Homo sapiens: one gene and its partners. The protein of the gene in region 2 interacts with the protein of the main gene of each other region in a pairwise test. Each region holds a gene or a part of one and is shown on either strand. Other genes may lie near its edges.

Evidence for each region. Proteins that work in one complex are often made in the same cells at the same time.
Region 1: the proteins of SLC31A2 (region 2) and OPRL1 interact in a two-hybrid assay, tested with the Homo sapiens proteins (one large-scale study listed by BioGRID and IntAct).
Region 3: the proteins of SLC31A2 (region 2) and HTR2B interact in a two-hybrid assay, tested with the Homo sapiens proteins (one large-scale study listed by BioGRID and IntAct).

The regions. Positions count from the first base shown.
Region 1 is NC_000020.11:64,097,082-64,101,133, reverse strand, and holds the end of OPRL1 (nociceptin receptor), read right to left. Parts: intron 3,333-4,052; coding exon 2,977-3,332; intron 2,859-2,976; coding exon 2,335-2,858; coding exon of another isoform or gene 2,248-2,334; 3' UTR 501-2,247; downstream 1-500.
Region 2 is NC_000009.12:113,149,662-113,153,806, reverse strand, and holds the start of SLC31A2 (protein SLC31A2), read right to left. Parts: upstream 2,801-4,145; 5' UTR 2,733-2,800; coding exon 2,727-2,732; intron 1-2,726. UniProt on the Homo sapiens protein: Does not function as a copper(1+) importer in vivo. However, in vitro functions as a low-affinity copper(1+) importer.
Region 3 is NC_000002.12:231,111,543-231,115,042, reverse strand, and holds part of HTR2B (5-hydroxytryptamine receptor 2B), read left to right. Parts: intron 1-1,113; coding exon 1,114-1,314; intron 1,315-3,500. UniProt on the Homo sapiens protein: G-protein coupled receptor for 5-hydroxytryptamine (serotonin). Also functions as a receptor for various ergot alkaloid derivatives and psychoactive substances.

The DNA.
Region 1 (4,052 bases), on a different chromosome or scaffold from region 2:
AGGAGGCAGATGTCCATGGCAAGAGTGTACCCAGCCCTAGAGGAGGCCGTCTGCTCATCCTTCACCAAAACTCCCCTCAGATCTGCTCAAGGAAGGGGAAATGAGCAGGAGCAGGGGTTCTTCTGAGATGAAATGGGGGTAAGAAAACCCTGCAACCTGGGTGGGAGCAGCACCCTCCCACTGTATCCTCAGGAAACCTCTCTTTCCAGGGGGCAGGGGAGAGGTGCAGCCATCGGTTGTTTAGAGAGAAACCGTGTGTGCTGAAGAAAAGGTAACAGCCCGGCCAACACACCATTAACTGGCTTCAACTCTCCCCAGGGTTGCAGCCTCCTGGGGGACGTTTCACTGAGGGCAGAGCCCAGCCTGTTGAGCAGCACAGGACAGGTACAAGAATTCAGCCTAAACCCATAGCCTCCTCCCACCCACGTGCCAATCCCAGAAAAGTCACTCCAGAAGCAAATCCCCAGGTGGCAGGAGCCAGAAACACTGGTTACAAAGAATACCCAGCCAGTGAGCAGGTGTTTATTAGGGTCCTTTTTCATTACCCCAGAGACAGACCCAGGGCTGGCTACGTGCACAGGAAGTAACGCTTGCCACATGCATAAATACGTGAAGGTGCACATTACATCAGCACAGATTCACAAAACACCTCGCCTTGGCAAGAAAACTGTAGCTAGGCAGCTCCCGTCCTCAGGGACTCCTGCCACAGACGTCATGGAGACAGCATGAGCCTCCCCAGAACAGTCCCCACGGCCTAGACTCCCCAGAGCAGGAGGAGCAGCCCAGGCTCTGTTGCGAGACAGCCATCACTTCCTGTTCTTTGCAGGTGCCTAAGGTAGGTTACCTGGCCAAGGTTTTGGTGGAAAAAATGAGTTTTTTCAATGTTGCAGGTCTTTTAATAGTTCATCTGTAGGAAGTGCATTTGCAAAGTCACCAACCTGCAGCTTCCATCTGTAGACCAGGAAGGGTGATTCTCTGGGTGACCACAGCGGGGCATCCCCTGAGGTACAGACGCCCCCCCCCCAACCCCCGCAGTGTCCTCACAGCCACCACAGCCTTTGCAGTTTGGCTCAAGCAAGCCCTGCCAGGCCCCACCCCTCATGCTGGCTCTGCTGTGAAGCCATCCTCCCGTTGGGCAGCAAGCTCAGGCCCTACACAGAGCCATCTTGAGGCTTGTAAATGAAGCAGGCGTCCCCAGAGCAGGACTCTGCTGTGGCCACCAGCTTCTCCTTCCACACAGCTTCCCCCGCAACACAGCACGGCCACTGACCTCTGGCTTCAAGCAAAGGAGAGGCTGTGAGGGGAGCCTTGGGAGGATGTGGGGACCCCCAGAGAATCTTCTCCCACCCAAACAGAGCAGTCAAGACCAGGAAAACGAGGCCTCCACTTTGTGAACAGAGCTGCCCATGTGGTCACGCGGCGCCTTCGTCCTGAGACACCTGCCCCACACTGAGAAGCAGGGCTGGGTTGACGGTCCACAGCATGATAGTTCATTGCACCGCTGGAGGGAATGGGCCAGGGCCTCTCGCTGGTCTCCTGAAGGGAAATGGGGGTTGGGCCCAGAGTCAAGCTGCAGTCAGGGATGAGGCCTGCACCGTGCAGCACACAGAAAACCTTCAGAGGTGCGGCTGGCCCAGGGCCAGCTCGGGGTCTGCAGCCAGGGACTGCCAGCCCCCACCTGGACACTTTCTCCTGGGGTGGCCCCGGCTGCACAGGTGGAGTCGGAACAGGCAAGTCCTCCAGGTGGCAGCTCCAAGCTCAGGGCAAGTCCCACCCCAAAGAAAAGCTGCCTGCTGCACTTCCCGGGCAGTGCCAAGCCTGTCCAGCTGCCCTGAGGAGACGTCACAGGGCTGAAGGCAGCTGGAGCCCTGCCATGCAAACAGCACACAGCACATGGGGGGCACAGGATGACACAGCTGCTGCTCCTCCTCCGGGTGCCTGCCCACCCAGGGTTCTGCCAACGCAGCAGCAGAGAGGCCAAGAGTCACATGAAGCACGGGGAGGGAGGGGCACGGGCTCCAGTCACGGCCGTCCACCAGCATGTCAGCTGCTTCCAGGTAGGTCCTTGTGTCCCCTCGGCCCTGCACCAGGAGGGCAGCTTTAGTCTGTCTGGGGCCATGGAGGTGGCCCTAATGCTTTGACCTGTCCCATGATGTCACTAGGTCCTCCTCTGGGACCGAGCATCCCTGGCCCACAGGGAAAAGCCCATCCCAGGCTCTGGATGCTCAGGGCCCAGGGTGTGTCCGCCTAGAGAGCAGTGACCTGTGTGAGCTCTGTGTTGGGCGTAGATGGGCTCTGCGGGCTGACAGGCACCATGGGCAGGTCCACGCCTAGTCATGCGGGCCGCGGTACCGTCTCAGAGGTCTTGCAGGCCAGGGCCACGTCCTTGGCAATGCTGCGCACGCGGTCAGACACCTGCACGTCCCGGCGCAGGGCAGATGCACAGCAGAACTTGCGGAAGCAGGCCTTGAAGTTCTCATCCAGGAAGGCGTAGAGGATGGGGTTGAGGCAGCTGTTGACGTAGCCCAGGGCCGTGCAGAAGCGCAGAATGGCCACGGCAGTCTCGCTGCTCGGCTGAACCCCCAGCCCTTGGGCCAGCACGAAGACCTGGACAGGCGTCCAGCAGCCCACGAACACAGCCACTACCACCAGCACCAGCCGAGTGATGCGCCGCAGGTTCCGGTCCTTCTCTCGGGAGCCCGAGAGCAGGCGGACTCCACGGAGCCGCCGGATCATGAGGCTGTAGCAGACAGAGATGACGAGCACGGGGACGATGAAGGAGAAGAGGAAGATGCAGATGGCAAACACCGGGCCCCAGTAATCCTGAGGGGTAGGGATCTCCACCAGGCACTCGATCTCTGCAGGGAGAGAAACGGGGTCAGAGTGGGCCCAGGAGACGTGGAGGGCACGTGGGCCCAGAGGAGCCACCCGGGAGCCAGGGAGCCTGGTGAGGGGAGGAGGGGACACCCCACTGACCTTCATCCTCGACCTGTGCCGAGCCCATGATGGCAACGGGAACACCGACAACAGAGGCCAGGGCCCAGATGGCCACATTGACAGCCTGGGCTTTGCTGGACGTGCGGACGTCGAGGGCACGGATGGGGTGGCAGATGGCTACATAGCGATCCACACTCATGGCAGTTAGGGTGAAGGTGCTGGTGAACATGTTGTAGTAGTCAATGGCAATGACTGTCTTGCACAGCGCATTCCCAAACGGCCAGAAGCCCAGGAGGATGTCCGTGCCCTGGAAGGGCAGCGTCAGCAGGACCAGAGTGTCGGCCAGGGCCAGGTTAAAGATGTAAATATTGGTGGCTGTCTTCATTTTGGTGTGCCTGCGGAGTAGAGGGAGAAGAAAGGCTTCACTTGGCCATGCTGGCTGGACCAGGCAGCAAAGGGCAAGGGGCTCCTCTTGGCCACCACAAGCTACAGTGGCCCTGAGTCCCTTAACATCAGAGTTCCCATGGGGGCTTGGTAAGTGATAGCTCCTGGACCCAACCTGAGACTCATGAGTCAGTCTCAGGGGGTAGGGCCTGGGGTCAAACGTCTTAACCAGCTCCTCAAGTGACTCTGACACACACAGAAGGATTCCAAGCCTTAAACACAGGTCTACTTTAGAGGAGTCAGGGCATGTAGGCTACCAGAACACACCCCGGATTCTGCACAGGAGCAAAGGTTTAGAGCCCTAAGGGAAAGAGTCTGCTCCCCTTGCTTTTGAGTCCCCTCCATGACCCCTCACAGACTCAAATGCTGACCCTACAGTTGCCAGAGGTTTCTGAGGGCTCCAGAATCTGTAAGAACATATCAAAAGGCTTCCAAGTCCACACTGCTGCCTAGCAATGGAGACCGAAAATGGTGACGGGGGGACAGGAGGGATGCTAATAAGGTATGAGTGTATCCAAGCACCTGAAATGGTGCTGGAAAGGGCTGGGAAAATCGTTGGTGATTAATAAATTTTTGTTAAATAAGTTAATGGTTGTAATAGTTGGGGGGGATTATGGTGGTGATGGTGGTGGTGATGATGGCAGTGATCATGGTGGTGATGGTGATGACTG
Region 2 (4,145 bases):
TGTCACCAACCCCTGCCTGCGCCTACCCAGGGACTGGGCTCACTGGAGACCGTGGAGCTGCAGGACAGAGAAAGAAATGTGAAAGCATCTGATTGGACAGAACAGCCACACAGCTCTGTGTCTTCTGAGGGACTGCATGTGCCTGTACCACGTTCACCTTCCATTTATTATGTGTCACTCCCTGTGACATCTCCGCAGGTGCCTACTATTATTAACCTCTTTAACAAGGAAGGTACATAAAAGCCCACTTATCTCCCCATGGTCACTCGGCAATCAGGTACCCAGAGCCAGAGAGTTTTCTGGAAAGCCTGTACTGGTTCTCAAACCTTAGTGTACTGGGTGTTTCTGGGACAGGTGTTTCTAGGACAGGTGTTTGTTGGGGGTCACACTTTGAGAAATCATAGGAACCATGATGGTCTCCTGTCAACCAGTAGGGACTGGTCAAGTAAATTATATGAGAGCTTCAAAATGGAAATCTAGGCGGTCACATCACAACATGATAAAGATCATGTTGAAGACTTTAAAAAATGTTGAAGAGTTTAAAAATAAGAATAGCTTTTACCCCCCACCCCCAATGGCACTAGCTCAATGTAAAAAGCTGACACAGTACCGAAAAGAAAGTAAAAAATCATTTTGAGTCTTACTACTCAGAGATCTCTCCTGTTAGGCTTTCAAAAAAAAAAAAAACATTTTGACACAGCAAAATGTTTACGCAAGATTGATATACAAAACCAAACAGGTACAAACAATACTGTGAAACTCCATTTACACCGGAGATGGCCTCATCCTCAGCAGAAGCCTCTAGCACCATCTCTGCCAGGTAGAGGTAGGGGTGACACCCATCACCCCTTCTCTGAGTCCATTTGGTAAAGCAGATGGTATGAATGGAATGTCCCTAGTGGCTAATTAATCAGTCAGGGAGTTGCCATAACTGGTTTCCTTCTATCATCCTTGGGCCTGGGCCAGTTATCTTAGGAGCCCAAAACAGCCCAGACATGTTTTGCCATAGACCTGAACACCCACAGAACAGTAAGAGTAATTTGAAAGATTTCTTTTTGTTGTGCTAGGTCTGTGCAGACCCTGGCGATACAGAGATGAATGGGACAAGTCTTTGGCCCTTAGGGAGCTACCTGTCTATGAGGGGGGACATTTAAGTGAGCAAATAATTACAACAGGTTGTAGGTCAGAGAAAGGGAGGCACAGTGGAGGCTCCCTGGGGGTGCTGGGGACCAAGCCGCCTGAGAGACACCTGCCCTGGCCAGAGAGCAGTTGGCTAGGATGGTTCTGAAGCCAGAGAAGCAGGAGATAGCTGGGAAGATGAACTGTATGGTTTGTTCAGAGCTGGAAACACCCACGGAGTCCGAAGCCCCAGAGGGACGAAGACTCACCTGTCACTCAACCCTTTCTACTTTTGCCTTTTTGCTAGAGGAAAAGATGGAAGTCAGCACACCCTGACTTGAGAGAAGCGATCTGGGCTACAGTTTTCAATTAAAGGGCTTTGTGGTCAGATAGGCAAGGGGCAGGGCCCCAATCTTGTTTTCCTACTTGGGATGAATCTTGGCCTCTGAAAGTTTAACTGATTTGTGCTTTTTTCAGGGTGGGGCTGTGGTGAAGGAGGGAGCAATCCCTGGAACTTGTTTTCTTCTATATTTCTTCATTTGGGGTTACTTACACTTTGAGAAAAGCTTCCTTATTTGTAAACAAGGGTTGGGAAGGAGATGAAGGTCCCAGTTGCTAGGCTGACTGGCTGGGGAACTTTTGCAAGTGCTTTCCATCTATTTCCCTTTTTAAAGGACGGCTGATCATTTCACTAAATGGCCTACATACACTTCCTATATCTTTTTTTTTTTGTTTTGTTTGTTTGAGGACGTCTTGTTCTGTTGCCCAGGCCGAAGGTCATGGCTCACTGCAGCCTGGAACTTCTGGGCTCAAGCAATCCTCCTCATCCTGCCTCAGCCTCCGAGTAGCTGGGATTACAGGCGCCTGCCACCACTTGTGGCTAATTTTTGTAGAGACGGGGTCTAGCTATGTTGCCCAGGCTGAGCTTCCTGTATCTTAAATTCTATGACATTCTTCATGGGATGAAGAAAATGATATGACTTCTTCAAAGACGAACGAGTCTTGCAAGCTGTCGTTCTCTCCAGCCCAGGTGAACCCTACCAAGAAAAACAGCTTGTCTGAAACGCTGTTTTCTGACTGAAAGTGTAGGGAAGCTGGAAAGTAGCTGGTTCTGTTTTATTCCCCGAAGAATCAGGCTACAAACTTGACAAGAGCAGGGCCGGGGATGTGCGCTCGGTGTGCGCGCGGGGCTGCGGGCTGAAATGCGCCGGGGGTTTCCCTTTCGTGGAAGCCTTCCTGGAATCTCCCAAGGCGCTGCTCTCCGCCCTGGGGCGCCGGCCAGAGGTCCGGGGCCGGGGGCCCCGGACCCAGCTGTCTTCAGCCACCGCGCCCCCACTCTCAAGCCGCGCCACCGCGGGCGCTCGGTAACTGCTCGCCTAGCCGGACTGCCTCCCAGCAGGAGGGACAAATAAAGAGGAAAACCACAGAGCCACCGCAACCTATACCTGCCGCGTCCCCCAACCCTGTTCCAGCTGTTGGCAATGCTGCCAACACACCCTTCACCAGCCCCGGGCCAGCGGCAGCGAGGATTCGGGGTGCCGAGATGGCAGCTCCAGGAGACCCCGCCCCAACCGCCCACCCTCTTCACCGTAGCGCCCGGCCCTTACCGCCATGGTGAGTGCGCAGGGCGGGCGCCAGGGCCGCGTCTGCTCGCTCGGGTCTCCTCGCTCCGAGTCAGTTCAACCGCCGCCGCCGCCGCCGCCGCGATAGCTACCCTGGCCGCACGGATCACGTGGTCCGGGCGAGGCGGCGCGCGGGCGCCTGGGAGTTGTGGTCCCCACACGCGCCCTACTTCGGCGTCCTCGGGCGCGCCCCCTGGCCGAGACCCAGGCGCCTCGCCCCAGGTTCCCAAGGGCTGAGGCTTGGCGTTCCCGGAGTCGCGAGCGAGAGGGACCACCTGCTGCCCTCTGTCTTCGCCCTTCCTGTTTTGCACTTGGCTTGTCTTGGCGATTATGAGAATGTTTATTGCTCATTGTAATAAACTACCCCAAGCGTAACATATATTGAGTTGAAATGGGCAAGTCCGTGCTATGGACGCAATAGCAACACATTTGGAGTAAATTAAGTCAATTATGCCCTAGATTTTTAGTGTAGTCATTACAAGATAATTACATTTTTCTTTTTAGAAAAATATTTTCCAATCTGATAAGCCAAAAGGAATACACCCGTGTAATTTTGTTTTTCTTTGATTACTAGGGTAGTAAACTATTTTTCTTACGGGTACTTCCATTTCTGTGTATTGCCTGTTCATTTCACTGATCCAGTTTTTTGATGGGGAGTTTCTTGTAGGGTGAGGGATTTTTAATGGTTATTGATTCTTAAGCATATTTAGGAACCCTTTGCTAATCAGCCTATGAGTAAAGAGGCTCTTCAGAGAAACCTTACTAAGGACAGTATTAGCAGAGACCTTGAGCCTGGAGCTAACCTCAGTTCACATCCATACGCATCAACTATTGGCTTTGGGACCGTAGGCAAATAGCTTACATCTCTGAACCTCAGTTTTCTGGTCAGTAAAATGAAAATAATAATAAAATCTATGTCATAGGGATTAAATGAAAACATACATGTTAAATTATCATGTAACCTGGCAGTGGGAGCTTGTTCAGTAAATGGTAGAATCCTCAGGGTCACACAGCTTTTTTTCTTTTCTTTGAAACAGAGTCTCGCTCTGTCGCCCAGGCTGTAGTGCAGTGGCGCGATCTTGGCTCACTGCAACCTCCATCTCCCGTGTTCAAGCAATTCTCCTGCCTCAGGCTCCCGAGTAGCTGGGACTACAGGCGCGCACCACCATGCCTGGTTAATTTTTGTATTGTTAGTAGAGACGGGGTTTCACCATATTGGTCAGGCTGGTCTTGAAATCCTGACCTCGTAATCTGCCCGCCTCGGCCTCCCAAAGTGCTGGGATGCTGGGATTACAGACGTGAGCCATCTTGCCCGGCCCACACAGCTTTTAAGATTCTCAGTCTGAAAGCTAATGGAGCAGCTTCAGGGAGAGAACATGGGCCGTGGCACTGTGATGGGGCTGG
Region 3 (3,500 bases), on a different chromosome or scaffold from region 2:
GATATACCTGCAATAGCCAGAAGAAAAGTAGATTACATTTTATCAGTGGACATATAACAATCAAATCCTAAAAGAGACTTAGATAATCTCACATGCATGACATCTGTTCTCTACAGGAGTTAAACTGGATTCTAATGGAAATATTCTAGGGGGAATTCTAAAATTTTAGTTGTTTTGAAACTGTAAACATGTTAAGTGGTGGGTGTAATATATAATGCATAATATATTAAATTCACATATGTATGAACATCTGTGTAAGTAAATTTATTAGAAAACTATGCAGAATATTCAATATCACATCCACACCTAAAATTTTTTTAAGGTTAATATTTCTAAAGTGCTTAAGACTATATGAAGTATGCAGTGTTTTATAAGAGTTTGTTAAATAAATTAAGTACTACGTCTAACCCTGAGATTTTCTTTTCAAATCAAAAGTCTGTACTAATTATTTTATCTCCAGTTTTTGGAGTGAATGATGAAATATAGAAGGGGAAACAATCTACTTTTCTTCCGGATAATCTGAAGCCATTCCTTTTGCAATCTTTATTTGAGAACTATTTCTGTCAAAAAAATCACTCCACTATTTCACCAAACTAGAGTATGCTATAAACAAGGATCTTGCTGCTAGTTATTGCTAGAAGTGAGCCCAAAACCCAGGTGTCACAGAGACTCCCATTCTAATACGCTTTTTGTCATACTGTTTCCTCTACATGGTAAAATGTTTTCTTTTTATACAACAGCTACTTAAAAATAAATTTTATTTAAATACCAAGGTTAAGTTCCAGTCACAATACTACATAAATTTTAAAAAGATCACAAATGGAATCGACAAAAGAGCAAAGGTCATAATAATGCTAAAAAGTTAAACTGCTGCTGACTTAGAAAAAAGGCACAATTATTATGCAAAATAGAAAATGTATTTAAAAGTTACCATCCACAGAAATATTGAATTTAATGTTGTCTCCATTATCTGAAGTTAAACATTATGTTGTTAAAGTTATAAAATTTCAGATGAGTAACAAAAAAGACAAAAGATGTATCACCTGAAAAACTGTAGACTGAAAGTTGCCATTTTATAGAATAAAATGTTTGTCTTGTTTTTGTTTCTTTCAGAGGCTATGTGGCCCCTCCCACTTGTTCTATGTCCTGCCTGGTTATTTCTTGACGTTCTCTTTTCAACCGCATCCATCATGCATCTCTGTGCCATTTCAGTGGATCGTTACATAGCCATCAAAAAGCCAATCCAGGCCAATCAATATAACTCACGGGCTACAGCATTCATCAAGATTACAGTGGTGTGGTTAATTTCAATAGGTATGTAGAGAATGCCAGAGTGTGGGTGGTATACAAAATCTTTGGTTCCACTTGGCTAGGAGAATACCAGGTCTGGTAGGCAATGAAACTCAGCATGAGAGGTCAAGCCAGCCTACTGATACATTAACATAAGCTCCTTATGTCACTGCATTTATCATACGCCTTCTAAAACATACTGTTGGTAAAAAGTGTGACAAGTAACAAAACTCATGTCCTCAGAAAGAACCATCTGCACAGTGTTTATTGAGATTTCTTTCTGCTTAGATTTCTATATGCAGAAAGGTTAAGTTTGAGAACAGTCTTCATATTTCCCAACAGATAATTATGGTCTAGCTAGCATTTGGAATCCTGTAATTACATTAAAATAACAAGAAATGCACCTTAAATCACATTTTAAAAGATTAATAAGAGAAAAAACAAAAATAACAACTCAAACATTTTGTGGGCAGGTATCAAAGAACACAAATTCATCTTGGAAGCCAACATTTCTGTACATATGTGTACAGATTAAAGGCAGTTAAGTGTCTGCTTCAGTGGGTTTTTTTGGTTTGTTTTTTCTTTTTTGGAGACAGGGTCTTGCTCTGTCACCCAGGCTAGAGTGCAATGGCACAATCATGGTTCACTGCTGCCTCGACTTCCCGGGCTCAAGCGATCCTCCCACCTCAGCCTCCCAGGTAGCTGGGACTACAGACACACCCCCCATGCCTGGCTAATTTTTGTATTTTTGGTAGAGGTGGGGTTTTGTCATGTTGCCCAGGCTGGTCTCAAACTCTTGAGCTCTGGCGATCCCCCTGCCCCAGCCTCCCAAAGTGCTGGGATTACAGGCGTGAGTCACTGCACTTAAGTGTTTTGAGTATGTTTAATTCAAAGTTTTAAGAGAGATGCAAAGAAAACATACCGATGTTCAGAAATTATGTATAAAAGAAATCCTTTTTCTTCTAAATCGTCTTACGGCCCTGTACTCATCTATAATACTCAAAGCTATACTTCTTATCATGAAGTATGCGTAAATCATTCAAAACTCTTATATGTTAGTATCAGAAAAACAAATAGATTTGCAAAAATTACAATGGTTTGACCAGCAGATTCTCTTCTTCCTTGTAAAAATATTTCAAAGAGGCAAAAAATTAAGAGACCTGGAATACTTAAATTACTCCTCCCTAATCTGAGTAGGGGCACTGGGGCAAAAACAGCAAGAAAGCAAAACAATGAGATTGACCTTCATATTCCTGAAATGATGATATAAGGGCTTGATCTCTTTGAAAAAGTTTGGAGGTAAAAGCAAGCTGTGTTACTCCTCTGGTATGGGAAGAAAACAGGGTCAAGAAAAAGTCTATTCAGAATGAAGAGATTTAAAAACAGTGAGAAAAGGCTAGATGAGGGGGCAGATGCCGACAGAGCAGAACCAGCCCCCCAAAAGCAGCTACAGAAAGGGAATGGGAGACAATGGGTGAAAATTAAAATTTGAAGTGCAGAGGAGGAAAACTATAATAAAGTCATTTATGCCAGATGACTCACATTTGGTAAGCTCACTGCAATGAGGGAGAGGGCAAGGGAGAGTGTGAGGTATGTGTATATTGGGGTGGGGTGGGAGAGTTGGACAGAGAAAGGGAAAAAAAGTTGAAGAAATGGATCCTTAAGAATAATTAAAATATTTGAAACTGTGAAATGTGATCAAGCTAATAAGGTAAGCAGCCTGCTGGTATAAATGGCATCTAGATTAAGGCTGGATACCATCAATTTATAAATTGACCACATTTTTATTGAGTGTTTATAATGTGCTAGGTACTAAGAATACACAGATGATCAAGAAAAAGAATCTTTGCATTCAAGAAAGGCGGACATATAAACAAATTACACTAACACAAAGTGATGAGTGATGCAGGAGAAAAAAGATTAAAAGGAAGACTCATGATATATAGATTTAGAAATCCACTTCTTCCTTTTGTAGGTAAGAAAAAAGAAACCTAGAGGTTTTAATCAGTTGGCTTAAGAACTCTTACAGCTTTTCAGCACCAAGGCCAAAATCAACGCTCTTTCACTTCATTGCACTTTGTCTTGTAGAACCGATCACAAATTAATAACTTTGAAAAAATGAAAATGCAGATGACAATAAGCTCAGTTCTGAAATTCTACAAAATGCTGAAGAGAGCTCACTCTCTTCTTTTGGATTTACAGTTATTCTA